Linked DNA regions of Homo sapiens: region 2 is linked to region 1. The links come from fine-mapping of genetic effects on plasma protein levels. A gene starts in region 1. The other region holds a variant in brackets. All regions are shown on one strand. Distances are between the middles of the regions.

Region 1 (15,592 bases):
AGACAGAAACAGAGAGAGACAGAGACAGAGAGAGACTGAGGGAGAGACTCTGAGGACATGGAGAGAGACTCAAAGAGACTCCAAGATTCAAAGAGACTAATAGAGACACAGAGATGGAATAGAAAAGATGAGAGGCAGAGGCAGACAGGCGCTGGACAGAGGGGCAGGGGAGTGCCAAGGTTGTCCTGGAGGCAGACAGCCCAGCTGAGCCTCCTTACCTCCCTTCAGCCAAGCCCACCTGCACGTGATCTGCTGGCCTCAGGCTGCTGCTCTGCCTTCATTGCTGGAGACAGTAGAGGCATGAACACACATGGATGCACACACACACACGCCAATGCACACACACAGAGATATGCACACACACGGATGCACACACAGATGGTCACACAGAGATACGCAAACACACCGATGCACACGCACATAGAGATATGCACACACAGATGCACACACAGATATACACATGGATGCACGCACATGCCAATGCACGCACACATCAGTGCACACGGATGCACAGAGATATGCACACACCGATGTGCGCACACACAGATATGCACACACATGGATGAGCACACACACACCAATGCGCACACACACCGATGTACACACACAGATGCACACACAGATGCACACACACCGATGCTGACTCCATGTGTGCTGTCCTCTGAAGGCGGTTGTTTAGCTCTCACTTTTCTGGTTCTTATCCATTATCATCTTCACTTCAGACAATTCAGAAGCATCACCATGCATGGTGGCGAATGCCCCCAAACTCTCCCCCAAATGTATTTCTCCCTTCGCTGGGTGCCGGGCTGCACAGACTATTCCCCACCTGCTTCCCAGCTTCACAATAAACGGCTGCGTCTCCTCCGCACACCTGTGGTGCCTGCCACCCACTGGGTTGCCCATGATTCATTTTTGGAGCCCCCGGTGCTCATCCTCTGAGATGCTCTTTTCTTTCACAATTTTCAACATCACTGAAATGAACCCTCACATGGAAGCTATTTTTTAAAAACAAAAGCTGTTTGATAGATGTTTGAGGCTGTAGCTCCCAGGATCCTGTGGAATTGGATGTTCTCTCCCTGCCACAGCCCTTGTCAATGATATTTCACAGAGACCCTGGGAGCACCTGCTCAAGAGTCAGGGACACACGCATCACTAAATGCAAGTTCCCAGGCCCTGGCTGCAGTGGGAGGACCTGGCAAGCTGCACTCTTGCTGAGTCCCCAGGGTGGTGGAAGAAGAATGAGAAACACATGAACAGAGAAATGGGGAGGTGACAAACAGTGCCCCCACTCAGACTCCGGCAAGCACGGCTCAGAGAGTGGACTCGATGCCATCCCTGCAGGGCCGTCCTGGGCACCACTGGCACTCACAGCAGCAAGGTGGGCACCATTGGCACTCACAGCAGCAAGGCAGGCACCAGCAACCCACCTCGGGGGCACTCAGGCATCATCTACTTCAGAGCAGACAGGGTCTATGAACTACAGCCGTGGGCTGCTTCCAAGGCACCCTGCTCTTGTAAATAAAGTTTTATGGGAACACACCCATATTAGTGTCCATGGAGTGGCCGTGGCAGAGACGTCCAGCCGGACAGACCAGCTGACCCGCCAAGCCCAGCATGGTTAGTGTCAGGACCTCTGCTGAAGATGCTTGCTGACCCTGGCCAGACCCCGGTTCCTAATGCCCCCTAAACGGGACGGGAGCCAGTGGCGGGCCCTGATCCAGGTCAGAGCTGGCTCTGCTTTCTCTTTTGTCCGAGTGACCATGCCTCAGTTTCCTCATGTGTAAAACAGGAGCCCACCGTGATGCTTATGGTGGGATGAGATCAGCATGGATGGAACAAGGCCCTGGAAGGGCCCATGCCATGGTCATCGACAGCAAAGCCACTCTGCAGACAGATGCTTCAGTGAATTGGTAGAAAATTCTGCAACCAGAATGCCCGGGGCTCCTGAGGGCCTAAGCCCAGCCCAGGGTTCTGGAAGCCACTCTGACTTCTTGGGAGTGGAAGTTGGCAGGACTCTTCCTGGGAAGAAGCGGAGGGTGGGGATGAGAGGACAGTTCAGGAGCCCACCCAGACCCACAGGAGGAAACTAGGGGAGTCATGCGGGGTCCTGGTGGAGCGCCAGCCTCCCTTCCTGCCAATGGGAAATGCAGGCGCCCACCTCATGGTGCTGCCGGAGGAGGGGGCCCGGGACTCCCCAGAGGCTTCGCTGAAGGGCCTGGGCGCCCCCAAAGGCTACATGTTTCATATGGGACGTGCCACCTGCCACGGCTCAGCTCCAGCTTTCTGTGAGTGGCGAGATAGAATACGGGGAGGCCACTGGCCATGGGCCTGGGACAGGGTGGGATGAGGCGGCAGGCTTGGGCCACCAAAGCCAGCATCGCCACCCAGCATTGATGACAAAGACTGCGTGTCTGCCATGAGCATCCTGCTGTTGGTGCACACACCGCATTGGTCTCTCCATACAAACATGCCTAGAGGCGATGTCAGAGGGTGGAGACCAGGAGAGGCAGGAGTCAGACATCTGGTGCCACCAGGAAGGCCCTTCTCAGAGGACCAGGCTGTGCGTGGTGCCCGCCGTGGGAGGCCAGCCTGGCGTTGGCATCCAGCATCATCAGTTTGTGCAGTCGGGTGGGGCTCAGTGAGTGCCTCCTGTGTGCCAGGCACAATGACGCACAATGTGTGCACACCAGGCTCATGTGCAGGTGGCTGCGAGACAGGGCGACCCATCAAGGCAGATGCACCATGAGGCAGTGGCCAGTGCTGTGGGTGTTAGGGGCATTGCTCCCCGGCCACTACGGCATAGCAGGCAGTGATCGCCACACTGGCCAAGCTTTAGACCATTTATTCCAGAGACCCCAGAGGCAAAAAGCCCGGCTGCACCTCCCAGTGACTCCCACAGCCATTGAGCAGAGACACTCAGGACCTTGTGATGGGAGGTTTCTGCACTGGAGAACGAGCCCAGAAGCCCTCTCAGCCTCGGAACAGTGTGGCCAGTGGTGGGCAGGTCAGGAGGGGCTTCAGACACAGCCTGTCCCTCCAGATGGTCACGGGAAGGTCACTCCCCACAGAAGTACGTTTTGGGGCCATGCGGGCACAGAAGGTTTGGGGGTGGGTGGGGCAGGTGCCAGCCTGGCCTGTGGGAGGCCATGGTGCAGATGCCAAGCCCCCCCCGTGACATGAGACCACCTGATACCACCCAGAGAGTGGCTGTGAGCGGAAGGGCCCGCCCAGAAACAAGCAGGGCCTTGGGGCAGAAGTCCTGGGCTCAGATCCCACGCTCACTGCCAGCGGCCTCGGCTCAGGCTTCTGCGCTCTCTAAACTTAGTTTTCTCTTCTGGAAAAATGATGGGGAAAATGATATTTGTATGTGAGGACTGAGAGTTAAATGTAAACATCTGGAAACTACAAAATGAGCACGAAATGATGTTTTTATTCTTAGAACAGAAAGTCCCCACACCCGCGGCCCTGGTGACTGATGAGGATGAGGTTCTGCGGGGCCTCTCTGGCCGCCCAGCTCTGCCTGGGGAAGGTGGGGCCAGAGTGGATGTGTTCCCAGCGTGGTCACTCCCCTGCCTCGCCAGCAGGTCTCGGCTCCAATCAGGAGGCCTAAGCCAAGTGATAAGCAGCCAGACAACAGCCATCCCAGCTGGGGCGTGGACTTTGCTCCAGCAGCCTGTCCCAGTGAGGACAGGGACACAGTACTCGGCCACACCATGGGGCGCCCACTGCACCTCGTCCTGCTCAGTGCCTCCCTGGCTGGCCTCCTGCTGCTCGGGGAAAGTCGTAAGTGCCCCTCGCCCTTCAGACCCAAAAGCAGCGCCAGGGAGCAGGGAGGGGCGGCAGTTGGGGAAACCCTCTCATCTCTGCAGCCTGGACGGTGGGTGCCTTGAGTGCTGCCAGAGGCTGGGCTCGGATGGCTGGGCTTGGCCTTTCCAGCCAACGGCATCCTCAAGGCCAGCTGTGGCTCCCTGGGGCTGAGAGTCAGACGGGCGGATCAGAGGTCACAGAGACAAAAACACAAGGACAGAGTCAGAGAGAGAAAGGGAGAGGGAAGGAGAAACGGAGACACAGTGAGATGGGAGGCCAAGAGGCAGAGACAGAGGTAGAAAGACGGAGACAGAGAGAGAGGGAGGGGTTGGGGCAGGCAGAGACAGGACAGTTAGCCATCTGCCACCACAGGGAGGCACAGGACGAGGGGCACAGCAGAGGAGCTCCCAGGGAGGAGGAGGCTGAGCCGAGCCAGTGCCACCACTCTCGGACTGGCTCCGTCGGGGAAGGAGCTGCCTAATGCACAGCTGGACAGGTGGGGGCAGCAGGGCTGTCCAGGACCCCCGGGTCTGTCCAAAAGCAGAGGCCCAGACAGGACAGAAGCCAGGCAAGCCTGGGGACAGCGGAGGAAGAGGAGGCCCCTCTGGTGGGGACACGAGAGACAGGGACCCTAGACTTGTTTGCATCCTGGACAAAGTGGACAGGCAGGGGCACCAAGGGGACCCAGGCCTGGGAAGGGAATGTGTGAGGGAGAGACGGAGCAGGGGGAGACCCTCGTGGGGTGGAAAGGGGAGACCCCTGGGAAGGCTGAGTGGATCCTCAGTGCATCACTGACCTAAACGGCCCCTCCGCCTGGTGACTTGGAGCTCCAGTCACATCACACGGGGGTCTTCTCCATCCCACCCTCAACCCCCTGCCCTCCCCAGCCTCTGTCCCCTGAGCCACATCTTCCTGTCTCCCACGCGGAACGGGACTCCCGTCTTCATGGGGTACTGTGTGGCTCCAACTCGCCCAGCCTTCTTCCTCCCCCTCAGGCCACACTGCCCCCTGCAGGAGCCCACTGTGATGCTTGTGGTGGGATGAGATCAGCGTGGGTGGAACAAGGCCCTGGAAGGACCCATGCCATCATCATCGACAGCAAAGCTACTCTGCAAACAGACAGATGCTTCCGCGAATTGGTAGAAAATTCTGCAGCCGGAATGCTCTAGGATCCTGAGGCCCTAAGCCCGGCCCGGGGCTCCCGAGGCCCTAAGCCCGGCCCGGGACTCTGGAAGCTGCTCTGGCTTATTGGGAATGGAAGTTGGCAGGACTCCTCTTCCTGGGAAGAAGCAGAGGGTGGGGATGAGAAGACAGGCCAGGAGCCCACCCAGACCCACAGGAGGAAACTAGGGGAGTTATGCAGAGTCCTGGTGGAGCGCCAGCTTCCCTTCCTGCCAATGGGAAATGCAGGCGCCCACCTCGCGGACCTCTGGGTCCACAGGGTATTGGCACCCTTAGCTGTGTGATGCGGGCCTGGCTCATAACCATGGCCTGTGGTGTCCCCGGGGGCCGGCCTGGACCCTGGGTGGACATGGCCAGCCCCGGAGAGCCAGGGCCAGGCCATCTCTCTCCCCTACTCTGCCTCAGAGGCCTCGGCAGCTGCACTGTGGGGTGGGTGGGGCTGAACACAGGTCCCAGAAGGTCCCACTCAGGACCCTGCTGTGCACACTTTTGATTTTAATAAAATCAGAATGCGCACAGCATCTGCAGTCTAGCCTTTAAACGAGCACAGCTGTCCTGGCAGTCACGGAAGTTCTTCTGGGGCGGTGGGACCTCAGCATTCCTTTGCTGGTACTGCTACAAGAAAGGACAATGGACCAAGTAGCTTAAAGCAACAGAAACATTTCTCCCACAGCTCTGGAGGCTGGAAGTTCAAAATCAAGGCGTCAGCGGGGCTGGTTCCTCCAGAGGCTGGGAGAGAGTCTGCTCTAGGCCTGTTTCCTGGCCTCGGGGTGCCAGCGGCCTCACAGCCCATGGCTTGTGGGAGCATTGCTCCCATCGCTGCCTCCATCATCGCATGGGGTTCTCACCATGGCTGTTTTTCTGTCTTCTTTTCTCTCAGAAGGACACCAGTCATTGGATTTAGGGCTCACTCTACTCCCATAAAATGTCTTCCTAACTAAATACATCACAAAAGTTCTATTTCCAATTAAGGTCAGGTTCTGAGGTTCTGGGAAAGACATGAATTTGGAGGGACATTATTCAGCCCTGTCCTGCCACCTGTGAGTGTTTTCTGCAATCCAACTTTTTATTTTAATAAAATCAGAATACGCAGAGCACCTGCAGTGCCAGCCTTTAAACTACTGCTGTTGTACTGGCAATCATTAAAGCTACGTGGCTTCAGTTTCAATCTTTACATTCAACAAGTTTAAACCCATTCTTCATGAGTTTGGACCTTACTGACTGAAAATTTTGCTTGCTGGTAAAACTTGCTCAAATGCAGTTGCTGACTGTGGAATTCACTGATGTTGCCAAAACAACAAACACAACTGTGTGCTCGAGGATTGCAATGCTCCCAACAGCTTCTGAAGAAACAAACCACACGACAAATGTCTACCAATCTGGATGCTCCATATCAGAGTTCTAGAGTGTTCCATTAATTTCTTGAGACAAGTGCCTAAAAACCTTGTTTTAATTTCGTTTTGCCAAAATCCCATTTTACTCACATCAGAAAGTGTGGCCACGTGGCCCAGACCCGGCCTGCTCAGTCTGACTGAAGCGTTGATGCGACTCAGCCATAACAGATAGCAGAAGCGCCCAGATTCAGTCCAGAGGGCTGAGCCAGGCACGCCATCTTTCCTTCATTCCCTCAACACATATTGGTTAAGTTCCGGCCGTGCTAGGCACGGGCATACAGCTGTGACCAAACACGTCAAGTCTTTTTCCAGCGGAGGGAAGGATAAGCCTGTCAGCATGTAATGTCAGAGAGGGGTTGGGTGCTAGAAGACAAATAGCACAGTGTAAGGGGATGAAAGAGACACGAGTGGGGGCAACGTCAGAGGGCGTGGTCAGGGAGGGTGTCTCGGAGGGCGCTGGGCCTGAGCCACTTGGGTATCTGTGGAAAGAATGTTCCAGACAGGGAGGTGACTGGTGCAAAAGTCCTGGGGTGTGAGTGTTGGGCTCAGCCAGGGTCAGCGCAGAGCCCAGTGTGGCAGAGAGAGGTGAATGAGGGCAGAGTTGAAGGTGGTGAGGCCTGGGAGGCCTGGCCATGGGAAGACCCTGGGCTCTGTTCTAAGACCACTAGAGGCAGATTCTGGGTAGTCCTTGACTTCCTTGCATCACCCTTTCCACCCCGTGCCTGCCACCTGTACCCTCTTCCTCACACAGTCCAGCTCAACCTTATAGGCCGTGTCCTACCCCCATGAGCTGGGGAGAGCTGAGCAGGCTTCAGGGAGATGGGAAAAGGCGGGAACTGGACAGGGGCTGCAAAGGAAAGGTGACTTCTTACTGGTCAATCAGCCTGGGGATGCTCGGGGGTGGATGCCAAGGGGAACAGAGCTGTGGCCGCTATCACAGAACAGCGAGTTCCTCTAAGAGGTCAGAGGAGGCGCAAGGGATCGACCAGAGACAGTGAGGGCGTCAGGCTCCAGTTGAGTGGGGACCAATCCTTGTGGCAAGTCTGTGAACCATCACTGTGGCTCTAGGGTAGCAGAGAAAAAAGCAGGCATATGTCCATCTGGCCACAAGGAAGGAGACCAAGGGGAAGAGAGAAGGTACCAAGAGAGGTGTTCACATGGAGGTGCGTCAGAACACCGAGGGCAAGGCAGAACGCGGTCTTCAGACCCCAACTGGAGCCCAGGAGGCCCGCGAGTCCCAGTTTGGGAAACACTAAGCCAGGCTTGGATAACTTGTCTGAGGCTGTGGTCATCCCAACATGAGAGCCAGAGGCCCCAAGGGAGATGGGCATTCCCCACCCCTCAGCTTCCTCAGTGCCTTTTGTGGAGTGGAGGTGACATGAGGCTGCAGGTTGCAGGGAGCCACGTGTGGGCTGCATTTCAGAGCAAGTGTGTGGGAGTGGAGCAGACACGCAGAGTAATGGGGCAGGGTCAAGAAATAATAAATCTAAGTCTAGCGTTGGTGGGATAATGTCGGTGTCACTAAAAGAAATGGGGAATTTGGAAGGTAAAGTAACTGGAGGTAGGAATGAACCCAAGATTTACTAAGCACCTTCTGTATACCAAACTCAACACTAGGAGTTTATACAATCTTTAAAACAGCTCTAAGAGTAGATATTATAATTCCCTTCTGCCAATAATAAATAATAAGTGACTAAGGTGTTTTTGAAGCTCAAGATTGCTTGATTCTGCAGTCTTGTTTTAAATTTTGGACATGGAGAGTTTGGAGTTCTGAGATGAGGGAAGGCATCTGTCATAGTGAGAGAGCTGAAAACATGGAGCTCAGGACAAAAGTCAGTGCTAGAGAGATCAGTTGGAAGAGTTATCTTTATTGTAGTGAGACATTGAATTTTTCAGTGGAAAAAAAGCACAGAAAAAGACTACAGAGGGCCAAGAAAAGAAACTGAGGCTGTCAAAATGAAAAGAGGAGGAGGAGTGGGTGAGAGACAAAGGAGACACAGGCAGAGAGATGTGGACAGCACAGCCCACAGACACACACTCTACAAGGGACACAGACTCTCGGATCCAGGGCATTTTAACCAGCAGATCAAGACTCATTTGCCAGTCATGAAATCAACTCAGTATTTTTTTTTAAAAGAGTAGAATCAAATAGAAAACTTTGTACTAAGTACTGTATTTTAGGAAATACTAATAAATACTATTTCTTGAAAGTTGGCATGTATGTGTGTCCTGGCACTTCATAAATTGTACTATTATAGTTTGTAATTGAAACAGCATCACCAATCCCCACATAACAAAGAGCAGAGACCTTAAAGACGAGTGGGGCCAGGCTGAAGGGGCACAGCTTGAGCCAAAGCACAGAACAGTGGGCTGAAAGCACCCTAGGGAGGGAGAATTCAAGGAAGGGGGCTTGGGTGGCCAGGCTGAGCCAGCGTGAGCATGTGAGGAGGCTGGTGAGCTGATTGGGTGGGATGTGTCTACTTCTCCAGAGAAGGGTGCATGGGTCTAGAGCAGGTGCCTCATGCTGTACCTCATAGAGAACTGGGGGGAGGGGGGAAATGGGCATTTCCCTCCACAGCCCCCAAAGTGCCTGAGGAAAGTGTTGATAAAGAAGCCAAACTCTGTAAAATATTTGAAGAGATTTATTCTGAGCCAAATGTGAGGACCACGACCCATGACACAGCCTTGGAAGGTCCTGAGAACATGTGTCCAAGGTAGTTGGGTCACAGCTTGATTTTATGTATTTTAGGGGGACAGAAGTTACATACAGACACCAATCAATAAGCATAAGTTGTACACTGGTTCGTTCCAGAAAAGGGGAAGGTGGGGGCTTCCAGGTCATAGGTGGCTTCAAAGATATTCTGATTGGCAATCAGTTGAAAGAGTTATTATCTAAAGACCTGGAATAAATGGAAAGGAGTATCTGGGTTAAGATAAGAGGTTGTGGAGACCAAGGTTCTTGTTATGTAGATGAAGACTCATAGGTGGCCACCCTTAGAGGGAATAGATGGCAACTGTTTCCTCTTCAGACCTTTAAAAGGTGCTACACACATGGCCAGGCGCCTTGGCTCATCCTGTAATCCCAGCACTTTGGGAGGCTGAGGCAGGTGGATCACTTAAGGTCAGGAGTTCAAGACCAGCCTGGCCAACATGGTGAAACTCCATCTCTACTAAAAATACAAAAATTAGCCGGGTGTGGTGGTGCTTGCCTGTAGTTTCAGCTACTCGGGAGGCTGAGACAGTAGAATCTCCTCCTGAGGCAGGACAATGGCTTGAACCTGGGAGGCAGATGTTGCAGTGAGCTGAGATTGTGCCATTGCACTCCAGCCTGGATGACAGAGCAAAACACCATCTTAAAGAGAAAAAAAAAAAAAAAAAAAAAAAAAGGTGCTAGACTCTCAGCTCAGAAAAAGACCTGGAATGGTAAGGGGGTTCTCTACAGAATGTGGATTTCCCTGAGATAGCTTTGCAGGGCCATTTCAAAATATGTCAAACAAATACAATTTGGAGTAAAATCATTTATTTTAGGGCCTGCTATATGTCATGTGATCCTATACTAGAGAAGTCAGGTTGGAAACTGGTATCTTATTGCTACAAAGACTCTGTTTGGTCAGCCTCAAGGTCTCTTAACGTGAATGCTGGTCAGCTGTGCCCGAATTCCAAAGGAAGAAATAATGAGGCGTGTGGGACCTGCTTCCCCTCATGGCCTCAACTAGTCTTTCAGGTTCCTATGGAATTCCCTTGGCAGAGAGGACGGGTCCACTCAGTGAGTTGGGGGCTTAGAATTTTATTTTTGGTTTACAAGAGAGTGATCCGCCTTTTGTGATCTGGATATGGCAAGGGACATGGCAGTCAGGGAGCATAGGTGAGGGGGAGCCTGGGTGAGGGTGACCAGAGCTTTTAACCCTGTCCTCCCTGCCTTCCAGTGTTCATCCGCAGGGAGCAGGCCAACAACATCCTGGCGAGGGTCACGAGGGCCAATTCCTTTCTTGAAGAGATGAAGAAAGGACACCTCGAAAGAGAGTGCATGGAAGAGACCTGCTCATACGAAGAGGCCCGCGAGGTCTTTGAGGACAGCGACAAGACGGTAAGGGCTGGGGATAGCCTGGCTGTTGGTAAGGAGCTCAGGCCACAGCGCCCTCGCTGGCCCCGCTGCTCCGTCCATCCAGGGGGGCGGCCTGGAGGAAGGGGCAGCGTGCGCGAAGGCTTTCAGGGGCGGGGCCCAGCAAATCGAGGCCTCGGCGGAGTCCTGCCCACAGGGACATCAGTGCCGCCCCCGCGCTGACTCCTTCCCGGCGAGGACTCAGCGGGGAGGGATGCGCCCAAGTCCCTTGAGGGTCACAGGGCTTCTGCCAGAGTTAAGTTCTATTTAAAAATAAAATGTTAACCTAAAAACCAATAGTCATGGTCTCGGCCAGCGCCTCGCCGAGTTGCAGTGAGCTGAGATCGTGCCCTCCCACGCCCGCAGCCCGCGTCCTGCCTTGGCCTCCGTAGTCGCTGAGAGCCACAGCCTAGAGCGCCAGCGCGCAGGCGCACAACTGACGCCAGGCCACGAACCCAGTACTGCTCCTGCACAGCAGAAGCACTAGCACTGAGGCCGGGCGGCGAACCCGGCACTGCGCCTGCGCAGCAAAAGGACACGCACTGAGGCCAGGCCGCGAACCCAGCACGGTGCCTGCGCAGCAGGAAGACCGGCATCCACACCGGACGACGAACCCAGCATCGCGCCTGCGCAGTAGGAGGAGAGCAATGCCACCAGGCCGCGATTGCGCAGCCGCAGCAGCCCCGCGCGGAAGACGCTACCCTCCTCTCCCCCGAAGAGGCGGGGCTTCGAACGAACCTGGAAATGGCCGAGGGGTCTCGACTTCCTCACCCCAGGCATCAGGAAAGGTGCCTGCAGGACAGGGCTCTGAAGTGGAAGTGGGCGGTGGTGATGCCGAACTGACAAGAATGAGCTGAAGAGAAGAAAGTAGCCGAGAAGGGGGCCAAGCCGGAGCTCAGTGAGCAACAGCTAGGCCAGCCGCGGCTGGTGCCATCAGCCACACCACTAACTGTGGACCCAAATGGAAACTTTGAGGCCCCTTACAGGTCCCCCAGCGCAGGCCACCGCCGAAGGTTACTGGGGAAGACCCCTGCAGCTTCCATGTGGACATTACTCGCTTGCTTCATCCCGGAGTGCAGTCACCTGCAGCCTGGGACCACCTGACTGATGTCACCCTGGAGATCCATGCCAAAAGAGCTGGGGAAAGTTCACCTTCTAATGACCCCTGCGGACCAGGGTGAAGTTACAAGTTATGGCCAGGTCAAGGAATTATAAGTCAATAAATAAACTGCCTCAGGGAGACGTACTCAGAGTCCAGGAAAATCTAGGAAACACCAAGAAGGGCGAGCGCAGCATCAGCCCCTGCAAAATTGCACTGCTGCCTCCTGGCTCACATGTTGCCCCATCCTTACTTTAGCCTCAAAGGCAAGGAGACCCAATATTATTTGAGTACTTGGATTTGATCCTGAGTGACTTTCTGAGAAAGCAGTGTATCATCTGCCCTAAGATCACCACATATATGACAAGGTTTTTGGATGAGTTGAGATTTCTAGACATTGAAACCCTCATGATGAACGTCATCCCGGGTAGCAGGGGCTAAGCCTTTCATCACCTGCTACAACAAGCTGGACATTAACTTGTATTTGAGAATTGCTCCAGGACTCTACCTTCAGATGCTGGTTAGTAGCATTGACTGGATTTATGAAATTGGATGCCAGTTAAGGAATAAGAGAATGTATTTGATTTGCCACCCTATATGGTCTGTGCAGACTGTCATGATCTCATTGAAATCCAAGAAAAGATTATGTCAGGGATGAAGCACATCACAGGTGGTTACAAGGTCACCCACCATCCAGATGGCTCAGAAAGCCAAACCTATGGGTTGACTTCTCCTCACCCTTCTGGAGAATCAGTGTGGTAGAAGAGCTTGAAAAAGTGCTGGGTGTGACGCTGCCAGAAACTAACCTCTTTGGAACTGAAGAAACTCAAAAAATTATTGGTGATATCTATGTAACAAAAGCTTTTGAAAGTCTTCTACCTCAGAACATATTCAGGCGCCTTGATAAACTTGTCAAGGAGTTCCTGAAAGTGACTTACATCAGTCCCACATTTATCTGTTATCACCTGCAGATAATGAGCTCTTTGACCAAATGATCTCTCTAAGAGGGTCTCACTGAGCACTTTGAGCTATTTGTCATGAAGATAGCTGAATGTTTCCATGCAGCAACAGCAGCAGCTGTTGACAAACAAGACAAGGCCAGCAAAGATGATGAGGCCACATTCATAGATGAAAGCTTCCATGCAACCCTGGAATATGGGCTTCCGCCCACAGCTGGTTGGAGCGTGACAATCAAATGTGTTACCATGTTTCTCACAGACTCCCACAACATCAAGGAAATATTTCTGACTCCTGGCATGAAACTTGAAGAAAGAGAATGTAGCAGCCACTAATACAATGGAAAGCGCAACATTGACACGTCTATCTAGAAAATTTTAATTGTCTAAGTTGTGTGACTCAGATATCTTTGCATTTCTGCAAAAGATCAAGGTCTACTCTAATTCTTAATTAAATTAAGAATTCCTTTTTATTACTTGTTAGCAAATAAATGGCTTGTCTCTAACAGAAAAAATTTAGAATTTTCGGAAATATTTTCAAATACTTCTTATATATACATATATTTTTTTCCACTGGTAGAATTTTTCTTTAGTAAAAGTAAATAATGCTGATCCAAGTTTATGTTTCACTCAGCATCGTTTCTCAAACACTCTTCTTTACTTATATATAGCTACCCTATAGCTAAGCTATATTTTATTGTATGATGCATTTACTCTTTTCAGAGTTTGGCCATATAAGTTATTTCTAAATATTGCTATTAGGAAAACACATATGCATGCATTTCTTCTAGATTATCATCTAAGAGTGGCTTCTCCAGAGAGAGACGACTGAATTAAAGGTTATCAACAAGTTCCAATTCCAGATAAGATGAAGAAATCACATTCCACACTGCCTCTCCCACTGAGTGTAGCTCCAAAACATGGATAGAATGCATGTAGCAGCTATTTGACGACCCTAAAAAGTAAATCGCAGTGTATTGCAGAATAAGACTACAATTAGATGTATGATATGATACAACTGGCTGTGAGTTTATCATTTTTTCCTCCAGTCTTCCAGACATCACTTGACCTGAATCTAATGGACATTTATAGGATTCTCAACAATAGCAAAGTACACTTTCCTTCCACATATGGAAAATTCCTCAAGGTAGACTATATCCTGTGTCTTAAAGCATACCTCAATAAAAAGATTGAACTCACATAAAGTATGTTTTCTGACCATAATGGAATTAAAGTAAAAATTACTAACAGAAAAATAACTGGAAACTTCCCTAAGTACTCGGAAATTAAGTCACACATGTATAAATAATCTGTGAGTCAAAGAGAAAATTTTAAGGGGAGTAAGAAAGTATTTTGAGCTGAACAAAAATGAATATGTAACATAAAATCTGTGGGATGCAGCTAAAAAAGCAGTGTTTCAAGGGAAATTTATAGCATTAAATGCTCACATGGGAAAAGAAAGACGGTCTCAAATTGTTTATGTAAGCTTCCACTTTAATAAACTAGAAAAAAAGAAAAAAATAAACCAAAAGGAAATTGAAAAAGCAGAAATCAAAGAAATTTAAAACAAAAATAATAGACAAAATTAATAAGCTGATGAAACTCAAACAAGACTGACAGGAATAAAAACAAACAAACAAAAACAAGAAAAAGGACCTATGTTGGAAATGGAAGAGAGGGGACATCACTACAGAAACTGTAGATGTTAAATGTATAATAAGAAAATACTTTGAACAACTCTGCATATATAAATTTGCATGAGATTTGAACTTGGATGAAATGAGCCTATTCTTCAATACCACAAGCCACCAAAACATACACAAGGTGAAAGAGATACCTGCCAATTCAATTCTTAATTTAAAACCTTCTGAAAAAGTAATGTTCAGGTACAGATGGTTTCACTGGTAGAATTTTACCAAACATTTCAAAAAGAACACCAATTCTATACAACTCTTCCAGAACATAGAAGAGGGAACACTTCTTAGTTTGTCTTAGGCCAGCATTACCCTGATGTCAAAACCAGACAAATACTGAAAACAAAAACCACCCTACGTAACAATATCTCTCATGAATCTAGACATAAAAATCCTCAACAAAATATTAGCAAACGGTGCAGCAATATATTTTTAAAAGAGTAATAATACACCATGACCAAGTGAGTTTTTCTGGGGCACACATGACTGGCTCAATATTTAAAAATAATTATGTAATCCACCATATAAACAAAAGAGAACATCCACATAATCATGTCAATTGATGCAACAAACAAATCTGGCAAAATTTAACATCCATTTATGATTTTATAAAAAACCTATCAGCAGAATATGAATAGGAGGGAATTTTATGAACATAATAAAGTTCATCTACAAAGAGTCTACAGTTGATATTATACTTAAAGGTGAAAACTGAAGGTTTTCTCCCTGAGACTGGAACAACACAAGAATGTCCATTCCCAACACTCCTAATTCAACATTATACTGGAAGTCCTAGCTCTAAGGAAGGCCTTCAGTAAGTCAAGAAAAAGAAATAAAGTTATCACTATTTGAAGATGACATGATCATGCATATAGAAAATCCTAAAGAATGTGAAGGGGAAAAAAGCTTGTTTTAGTCCCTTCTCACGCTGCTGTGAAGAACTACCCGAGACTGGGTAATTTATAAAGGAAAAAAGGTTTAATTGACTCAGTTCTACATGTCTAAGGAGACCTCAGTAAACTTACAATCATGGCAGAAAAGGAAGCAAACGTGCTCTTCTTCACATGGCTGTAGGAGGGAGAAGAATGAGAGCCGAGCAAAAGGGGAATCCTCTTAAAAAAAATCAGATCTCATGAGAACATACTCCCACGAGAACAGCATGGAGGAACCACCCTCACGATTCAGTTACCTCCCACTTGGTCCCTCTCACTACACATGGGGATTATGGGAACTACAATTCAAGATGAGATTTGGGTGGGGACAGAGCCAAACCATATCAATGCTCCTAAAATTTGCAAATGAGTGTAACAAGGTCACAGAATACAAGGTCAGCACATGTGTTAATCACATTTTTATGT
Region 2 (8,579 bases), 26 kb before region 1:
GTGCTGAGCAACTCGTCCAGCTGCAGCGAGGGCGGCCAGGCCCCCTTCTCCGACCTGCAGGGGTAGCGCGGCCTCGGCGCCGGAGACCCGCGCGCTGTCTGGGGCTGCGGTGGCGTGGGGAGGGCGCGGCCCCCGGACGCCCCGAGGAAGGGGCACCTCACCGCCCCCACCCAGAGCGCCTGGCCGTGCGGGCTGCAGAGGACCCCTCCGGGGCAGAGGCAGGTTCCACGGAAGACCCCGGCCCGCTGGGGCTTCCCCGGAGACTCCAGAGCCCACAGAGGAGGGGCCGCAGGGAACAGCCCCGGGCGGCAGGCGCCGGGCAGCGGCATCTCGTCCTGGCTCCACCGTGCTGCTTCTGCCTCTGGACGGTGCTTTCAGGGGACGCGCGGACCGTGGTGGAGCTGCTTCCGGAGAAGTGGAGGATCCTCTGGCCAACGGCCTGAGGAGAGCGGGGCACGGGGTCTCTTTAGCTTTTACAAGTTTTAGGATTTTTTCAAGCAGGGATCAATCCCGTGGCCATTTTTTGTGGTACTTTGGCCTCAATTCTTCACCAGGAATCACTGTGTTTACATGAAATGACAATTTGATACTGTATTTGATAGAAAACTATTTTTTTGTTACCGGGGTTTACATAGAAGCACGTTGTTTATACCACTAAGTGACTTTGGGGGGGCTCTCCCATGGAAACGGATGGCACTCCCTGAAGCTCCCTGGTCACAGGTGGATGAAAACGTGTCCGTGGGTGACATCAGGTGGTGTCTCCACCACCAAAAGCAGTTAGAAGCCAAGGAGATTCCTTTATCTACCTAGGGTTCATTTTCAAAAGAAAATTTAAACTATAATTTAAACAATTAACGTTCTTTTCTACAAAAAAAATGCAGGGACTTGATTTTTTTAAAGAGCTTCACTGAATTAGGATATTTTTATTGCTTTTAAAGAAAATACAAAGATGCAGTTTCTGCAGGGTGTGGCGTGGACCAGTGCTGCCGACCATAGCTCAGAGAGCCCTGCCCCTGCCTCACTGCACTGCAGCCTCCTCGGAGGCCGCACCTCCACTCCACTCCCCACGCGCCCCCTGCCTCCCACCCAGGTCCACCTGCCACCTGGTGACCACCTTGAGTACAGAAGTGAAAGTGGGGAGAGTATTTTATTCAAGTCACAGCAGAACTGGAAAAAAACTCTTCTGTTTTACCAACTTCTTGTGTTTCAGAAACATATTCTGTTCAAAACTTTTGAAGCCCTTTCGGTGTCTAGTCTGCAGATGTTTTTGTATGTGTGCACCTCTGACCATGTGTGTACATATGTGTCTTGCTGGAAAGGACATATTCGCTGTCCCCGTGCTGCTGGGAGGGCCGCCTCACAGCCTCACGGTTCCCAGCCCCAGCACAGTGGAGGCAGGCGTGGCTGCATTCCCCTCACGCTACCCTCCCAGCGGCTTGTAGCCGTCACTGGCCAGACCTCCAGGGTGCGGAATCAAATAGGAAGCATGCAGAGACTCGGCAGCTTTTCCTCTGATGTGTAAGTTATTTGGAACGCGTGCTGTGTCCCGCGATGTCCCTGATGTACTGTGCAGGCGCGGTGCCTCCGTCTCGTCGCACAGCTGCGCGCCCTTGTGTGACCCTCCCCATAAAGGCACTTTACAGCTTCATGTTTCATCCACTGTCACTTTTTTTTAACTGCTGATGTAAATGGAATTTTAAAAGCAGAGTTCTTTATTGTATGGATGACGTTTGAATAAATATCAGCAACTCCTGCCATCTGCCTTTGTCTGTCAAGACACAGAACGTCTCAGCAGTCGGGGTTTCCAGGGCCGCAGTGCACTGTGCTTGCACATGGTAAGTCATTGTTGGGACGGAAAAGAAGCCGGCAGTGGGCAGGGCCCAGCGTGCGGCTCAGGCACCGAGCAACCGCTTTGCTTTCTTCTGTCAGACGGCGATGATGACAAAATAGCAACAAGGTTGTGCGTGTCAGAAACGCAAAGGCAGCAGAGGAAGCGTAGTGGAACCATTACAGAATCACAATGCAGCCGACACTCTCCAGACCAGAAAAGGGAGCATAAAGAAAGGGTATTGATCCAATAGAAGAAGGGAAGGGTGGAGAAAGGGGAAAGCATGGTTAACAGGAAACAACATGTAACGGAAGAGACAGCCCAGATGTGTCTGGCTCACAACAGACGTGATCATGTTATGCTGGCCTGGAAGAGCATCGGATCAGACGTGACAAGTCACTGCTTAGAGACCATCAAGCAAATTTATATATAGATTGGAGATTTAAAATAAAAGAAGACAGAACAGACAAACACCATAAGAAAGCTGGTGTAGCAGTATCGATGACCTGAAATGGGATTCAGGACAGTTCATAGAGTAAAGGGGGCTGCGTGGCAATCAGGAACTCATAAGCCACTGACTATAAAGCTCAAAACACAGCAAAGTTGGCAGTCGGCAGACAGCAATGTTGACTGTCATGAAAAGTGATCCCTGTTTGCCCCTAAACGTAGAGAAATCTGCGTTATTTTCCAGCACACATGGAGCACAAACAAAATATTTGCAAAACAATGGGAAGATCATTGAAACACTGTTTGGCAATTTAAAAGCTTGTTTCTAACTCACGGGATGCGGGCAGTCTGCTCTCTAGAACTGGACAGCGTGCACAGAGCCACGGGAGGGAGCAGCCACGGCCAGCTCAGATTGGTGTCGACAGCTTAGTGGTGTCTGATTTTATACATGACAAAATGAACGAGTTAACCATTTAAGCCAAAAAAATAAGACTAGCGTAACCCAAAGAAAGTATTTAAATACTTCTGTCAATTAGGACAGTTGAGAAAAGAGAATAACAAAATCAAAAGCAAAACTCAAACTTTGTACCTGAAAAATCTAATAAAACTGACTAATTTATAGAAAACCTAAGAAACTCCATATCAAATAAAAAATTTTAAATATGAGAGAACCATTATGAACACCTTTCTGCCAATATATTTGAAAACAGATAAATAGGATTTATTGTTAGAATTGGTCAAGAAGAAATGAAATACTTGGGTTGATGAATAACAGTTACAGAAATTGCATTGCAATTAAAAAAAAAATTACCCCAAACAGATACCAGATCTAGGTGATTTTGTAAGCATACAAACATATTTATAAAAGCTATTTAAAAGAATATAACAAGAGAAAGCAACTCAATAAAGTTATGAATCAAATTTAACCTTGGTACCCAAACCTGACAAAGATTATGTAAGAAAAGAATCAGCTGGGCCAGGTGGCTCACATCTGTTCTTCTAGTACTTTGGGAGGCCGAGGTGGGAGAGTTGTCTGAGACCAGGAGTTTGAGACCAGCCTGGGCAACATTGCAAGACACCATCTCTACATGAAATTTAAAAATTAGCCGGGCATGGTGGCACATACCTGTAGTCCCAGCTACTTGGGAAGCTGAGACCTTACAAGTGAGCCCAGGAGTCCAAGGCTGCAGTGAGCTATGATGATCATGCCACTGCACTCCAGCCTGGGCAACAGAGCAAGACCCTGTCTCTCAAAATCAACCAAACAAAAAGACAATGTAAGAAAAAATAAAATTATGAAGATGAATGCAAAAATTCCAAATGAAATATAATTAAGTAAAACCCAATTCTGTGTTATAAATAAAGGTAATACTTTCTAAGCAAGTAAATTCATCCCAGGAATGCAAGGGGTAGTATGTTAATGTGGCTATAATTTGCCATATTAATGAAGTGAAGGGTAAAATCACCAGCTTAACAAATGCAAAACAATAATTCAATTTTTATTCAACATGTACTTGTCATGTTAGGCCAACTAGGAGTAGAAGAAAATTTCTTTAACTAAATAATATGTATCAAACAAAATCTTTGCAGCGAACTTTTTTT[T/G]TTTGTTTGTTTGTTTGTTTGTTTTCTGAGACGGAGTCTCGCTCTGTCGCCCAGGCTGGAGTGCAGTGGCGCGATCTCGGCTCACTGCAAGCTCCGCCTCCCGGGTTCACACCACTCTCCTGCCTCAGCCTCCCGAGGAGCTGGGACTACAGGCGCCCGCCACCACGCCCGGCTCATTTTTTGTATTTTTAGTAGAGACGGGGTTTCACTGCGTTAGCCGGGATGGTCTCGATCTCCTGACCTCGTGATCTCCCACCTCAGCCTCCCAAAGTGCTGGGATTACAGGCGTGAGCCACCGCGCCCGGCTGCAGCAAAAATTTTAAGTACTGAAATCCTTTAGAACCATCCCCATTGGCAGCAGAACTGAACGGGGCCCCACTACTCTCCAGCGCCATTTAGCCGCAGTACTAGTGACTACCACCGCAAAGGAAAAGGAAACAAGGCCAGCGCGGCGGCTCAGGCCTGTCATCCCAGCACTTTGGGAGGCCGAGGCGGCAGATCACGAGGTCAGGAGATCGAGACCATCCTGGCTAACACGGTGAAACCCCGTCTCTATTAAAAATACAAAATTAGCCGGGCGTGGTGGTGCATGCCTGTAATCCCAGCTACTCGGGAGGCTGAGACGGGAGAATCGCCTGATCCCAGGAGGCAGAGGTTGCCGTGAGCCGAGATGTCGCCATTGCACTCCAGCCTGGGCAACAAGAGTGAAACTCCATCTCAAAAAAAGAAAAAAAGAAAAAGGAACCAAGGCATGCTAATTGAAAAATAACTTTTCATATCTAGAAAAACCAGGTGAATTCATAAACTATTGAAACTAAGAAGTCCACAAGATCAACCCACAAAAAGTTATTAACATTCCTAGCAATAACAATACTATTTTAACAGCAACCTAAATACTAAAATAAATGTAACAAAAGTTTTGGACAAAATTATGAAACATGATAGAAGGTCATAAAAGAAGGCCTAAATGGGAGATTTTTATGGATGGGACAATTCAGTATCACCAAAGTGTTAACTCTCCCCCAAGTTAATCTGTGTATTTCATCAAAATTCCAACAGAATTCTTTGTGGAATTAGGAAGTTGATTGTAATAAACATAGAAGATAAAGGTCTGAGTATAGCCGTGGTGATTCGGGGAGCAGAGGCAGGAGGAGGAGGGCTCACCTACCAGGCATCTGGATAGATCATAAACCTGTCATCAGTCGTGACAAGGGGGAGAGAGGCTAAACTGGTCGAGCAGAATTCAGATTCCCAGGCAGGGATGTGTGCAGGGACCTGGCTTGTCCTGGGGCTGGTCAATCTTTGGCACGGAATGGCCTCTTCAGGAACGGGTGTTATTGGGACAGCTGCCTTTCCATGTGGATGATGGCATAAAAGTATAGCCCCCCCAAACTTAAGATTAAAACATTATTATGAGGAAACAGAATATTCTTATTGCCTAGGGCAAGGATAGATTTCTTACAAAAGACAAGCTACACTTTAAGAGATGGACAAAAAGATAAGATGGACAATCTGAGCACATCCCATGGTGAATTTCTCTCCACGCTAAGACCCCAGACAAGGGTGAAAAGCAGGACCAAGGCCCAGAGAAGAAAAATTCTGCTCAAAATCATAACTGTTCAACCTTGCATACATTCTCTCTCTTAAACTGAAAGTTAGCATCCTACAGCACTGGTGTGACACCCGGCAGGCCCGAGGGCTCAGCTGCCTCCAGCTGTGGCCCCAAGAAGGCAAAGCACCCGGGTGGGGTGGAGGGAGCAGCCCCGTGCTCTACTGGCTGACAGTGGTGCCCAGGCCCAGCTCCCTTCTCTGCACAGACAGCAGAGTTCCGCTTAGCACAGGCTTTTCCTCGCCAGTGCACACACTGTCAGCCATTGGAACTGGCCTGCAAGACAGCTTGCTGTGGCGGCTTTGCAGGCACAGGGCACACAGGCATCCGTGCACGCAGCTCCTCTGTCCTCCCATGCCCTGCACCCTCCGTCACAAGGAAACCCTTGCTTCTAGGATTGCACCAAATAGGATTTGGAACCAATTGGTGCCCAAGCTCAAATCCTGTTAGTGGCTGCCTGTTTCCCTGGCATACATGCGTCCTGCCGAGATGCATTTGGCACCAGGTGGGATGTGCTCACTGGTTCCCAAAACGAGAACACATAGCAGTTTCCCTGGATGTTTGTTCAATACTATTCCCGGGACCTGCCCGTAGATTCCAATTCCTTATGGGTGTGGAAGAGCCTGGAAATCACGTGTGTGTAGGTGTGTGGCATGTGTATAGGGGTGTGTTTATGTGGTGTGACTTTGGGGTATGAGTGTGGCATGTGTACGGTGTGTGTGAGTGTGGTATGTGTATGGCGTGAGTTTGGGTTGTGCGAGCGTGGTTCTCATGTACGAGTGTGAGCATGGAGATTCTTTGGTAGGGAAGGAGTCAGGGTCTCCCTCTGTCGCCCAGGCTTGAGTGCAGTGGCACAATCTCAGCTCATTGCAACCTCTGCCTCCCGGGTTCTCTGTCTCTGGGACCACAGGCATGAACCACCAAGCCCAGCTAATTTTTTTATTTTTTGTCTAGCTTTGGTCTTGCTATGTTGCCCAGGTTGGTCTGGAACTCCTTTCCTCAAGCGATCCTCAGTCCTCAGCCTCCCAAAGTGCTGGGATTACAGGCATGAGCCACCACCCAAGAGATTCTGATGTCACAGACATCTGACTCACACACTCCCTGGACAGCTCACGTGTGCCCACCACCACAGTCAGGGATGGCTGCAGATGAACAAGGTGCTGACGTGGTTTCTGTAGCCCCCAAACAAGCAACTTGCCTTGAGATGACAACCAAAGTTTTCCTGTGTCCTCCACACTCAAGAGTGACTGTGAGGCGGAGGGGCCCAGCCCTTCTTGCAGGCGGGAATGAGTGGATGGGTGGATCAACAGAGGCTGCCACAGGAGAGAGGGAGGCCTGGCCTGGGAACAGAGCTGTGACCGTGCCCTTCCCCAGGGTAGGGGCTGAAGGACCCTCCCATCCTAGTGACAGGGCCACAGCATGTCCAAGGAGGCCCCAGAGGAGGTCCCGGGAGTCCTGGGAGAGCCTGGTTAGCCTCCCTGAAGGGAGGAAGTGGGGTTTTGTGAGAGGGATGGTGCAGCAGCCCCCACACCTGCTACTCCGTGTGGCCGGGTCCAGCCCCAGGCAAGGTTCCAGGCATGCCCCTGGGACAGACGTGGGAGGGAGACCAGCAGGCAGGTCCCCCTCAGGGAGGTATGGAGCGGGTCCCCGGGGCCAGGTGGAGCCCCTCACACCTGTGTCCTCAAGGACCCACACCAGGACAATGGCCATAGGCGGGCACCTGCAGCCGCCCTGGCCAGCAGTGAGACGGGCAGAGAGCCCAGCCAGATAGCCCGGTTCCTGCCCCCTCCCGCCTGCCCGCACAGAGAGGGCTGCATGCAGGTGAGGGTCCATCACCTGAAGAGCTTCACCAGCCCCGAGGCCATGAGCCACTGAATCTCTCAGGGGGTTTTGGCGCTTGAGGTTCCCCAGGTCATTCTGCTGCCCAGAGAGGGTTGAGGACCTCTGACCTGGAGCCCCAAAGGGGAAGGGTACCCTAAGACCAGCCAGCCATCTACTCTCAGGTGGGAAAGGGGTAGGGTTTAGATATGGCCCCCTCCCCTCCACGTCCTGAAATTACCTTGGGCTGTGCTGGCCGAGAGCCGCGGGGACCAGATTTGAGCTGGACGTGAGCTTTATTCCAGACGGAGCAGCTACTTTGTAAGCGATCTCCCTGGGATCGATATCATGGAGGGGCACAGATGGGCTTCAGCTGTGCTGGGTGGAAGAGAAAACATGCCCTGTCGGCCCCTCAGCAAGTGCTCTGCTCTCTGGACTGAGATGCAGGTCAGCAGCAAGCAGGGAGGCTTTGGGGGTGCTGGGGGCTGCTTTGAAAGGCACCCCTGAGCTAAGACTTGGCTGTTGGGAAGGAATCACCTCCCTCCCTCCAGCCGTAAAAAGAACTGGACATCAGCTTCCAAAGAAGTCATCAGCAATGCAACTGTTCACATGGAGGATACTCCCTGCTTGAGGGGTCAGACAGGCCTGCTGGGCAACCCAGGAGGCTTGGATGACCGTCTACCCCAGTGTTTTTGGGATGGAAAGTTCCACATTCTGAGAACCCTCAGTCCCTGGGCAACCTGGGGTGGTTAGTCACCACAGCTTGTGGCTTGGGCCCATGACAGCAGGTAGAAATGACGTGGACTGCCGCCAGCCGGGCACAGTGGCTCACGCCTGTAATCCCAGCACTTTGGGAGGCTGAGGCATGTGGATCACTTGAGGTCAGGAGTTCGAAACCAGCCTGGTCAACACGGTGAAACCCCATCTCTGCTAAAAAAAAAAAATATATATATATAAATTAGCCAGGCATGGTGACGTGCACCTGTGGTCCCAGCTACTCAGGAGGCTGAGGCACAAGAATCACTTGAACCCGGGAGGTGGAGGTTGCAGTGAGATTGCACCAGTGCACTCTCCAGCCTGGCAACAGAGCAAGACTCTGTCTCAAACAAACAAAACAAAACAAACAAAAAGACGTAAGATGTGGACCGCTGGAGAATGGGGGTGCTGCCTGCAGTCAAAACGGAGTGGGGGTGCCCAGCTCAGGGCCAGAATGATCCTATTCCCGGCACTTCTCAGTGAGGCTCTGTGGCTCACCTAAGAAACCAGCCTCCCTTG

What was found. PIP is the chance, under the fine-mapping model, that this variant and not a neighbour inherited with it causes the effect. Protein levels are from the aptamer-based SomaScan assay of Sun 2018.
Region 2: its variant is fine-mapped to the plasma level of the F10 protein (Sun 2018, PIP 0.95).

The regions. Positions count from the first base shown.
Region 1 is chr13:113,119,143-113,134,734 of GRCh38, forward strand. F10 (coagulation factor X) reads left to right here and starts at 3,657. Exons shown (of 8, transcript NM_000504.4): 1 at 3,657-3,783; 2 at 10,310-10,470. The coding sequence starts at 3,714. It overlaps F7 (coagulation factor VII), which reads left to right. Exons shown (of 8, transcript NM_019616.4): 8 at 1-1,543. F10-AS1 (F10 antisense RNA 1) reads right to left here and starts at 10,904. Exons shown (of 3, transcript NR_126424.1): 1 at 10,864-10,904; 2 at 9,593-9,735; 3 at 9,013-9,283. It also overlaps the pseudogene KARS1P2. RefSeq lists enhancers at 10,082-10,808, 10,809-11,535.
Region 2 is chr13:113,096,794-113,105,372 of GRCh38, forward strand. MCF2L (MCF.2 cell line derived transforming sequence like) reads left to right here. Exons shown (of 30, transcript NM_001112732.3): 30 at 1-2,949. The coding sequence ends at 66. Among named protein-coding and RNA genes, the nearest start is that of F7, 4.7 kb to the right of the region's middle. The variant T/G (reference allele first, on the strand shown) is at 3,878.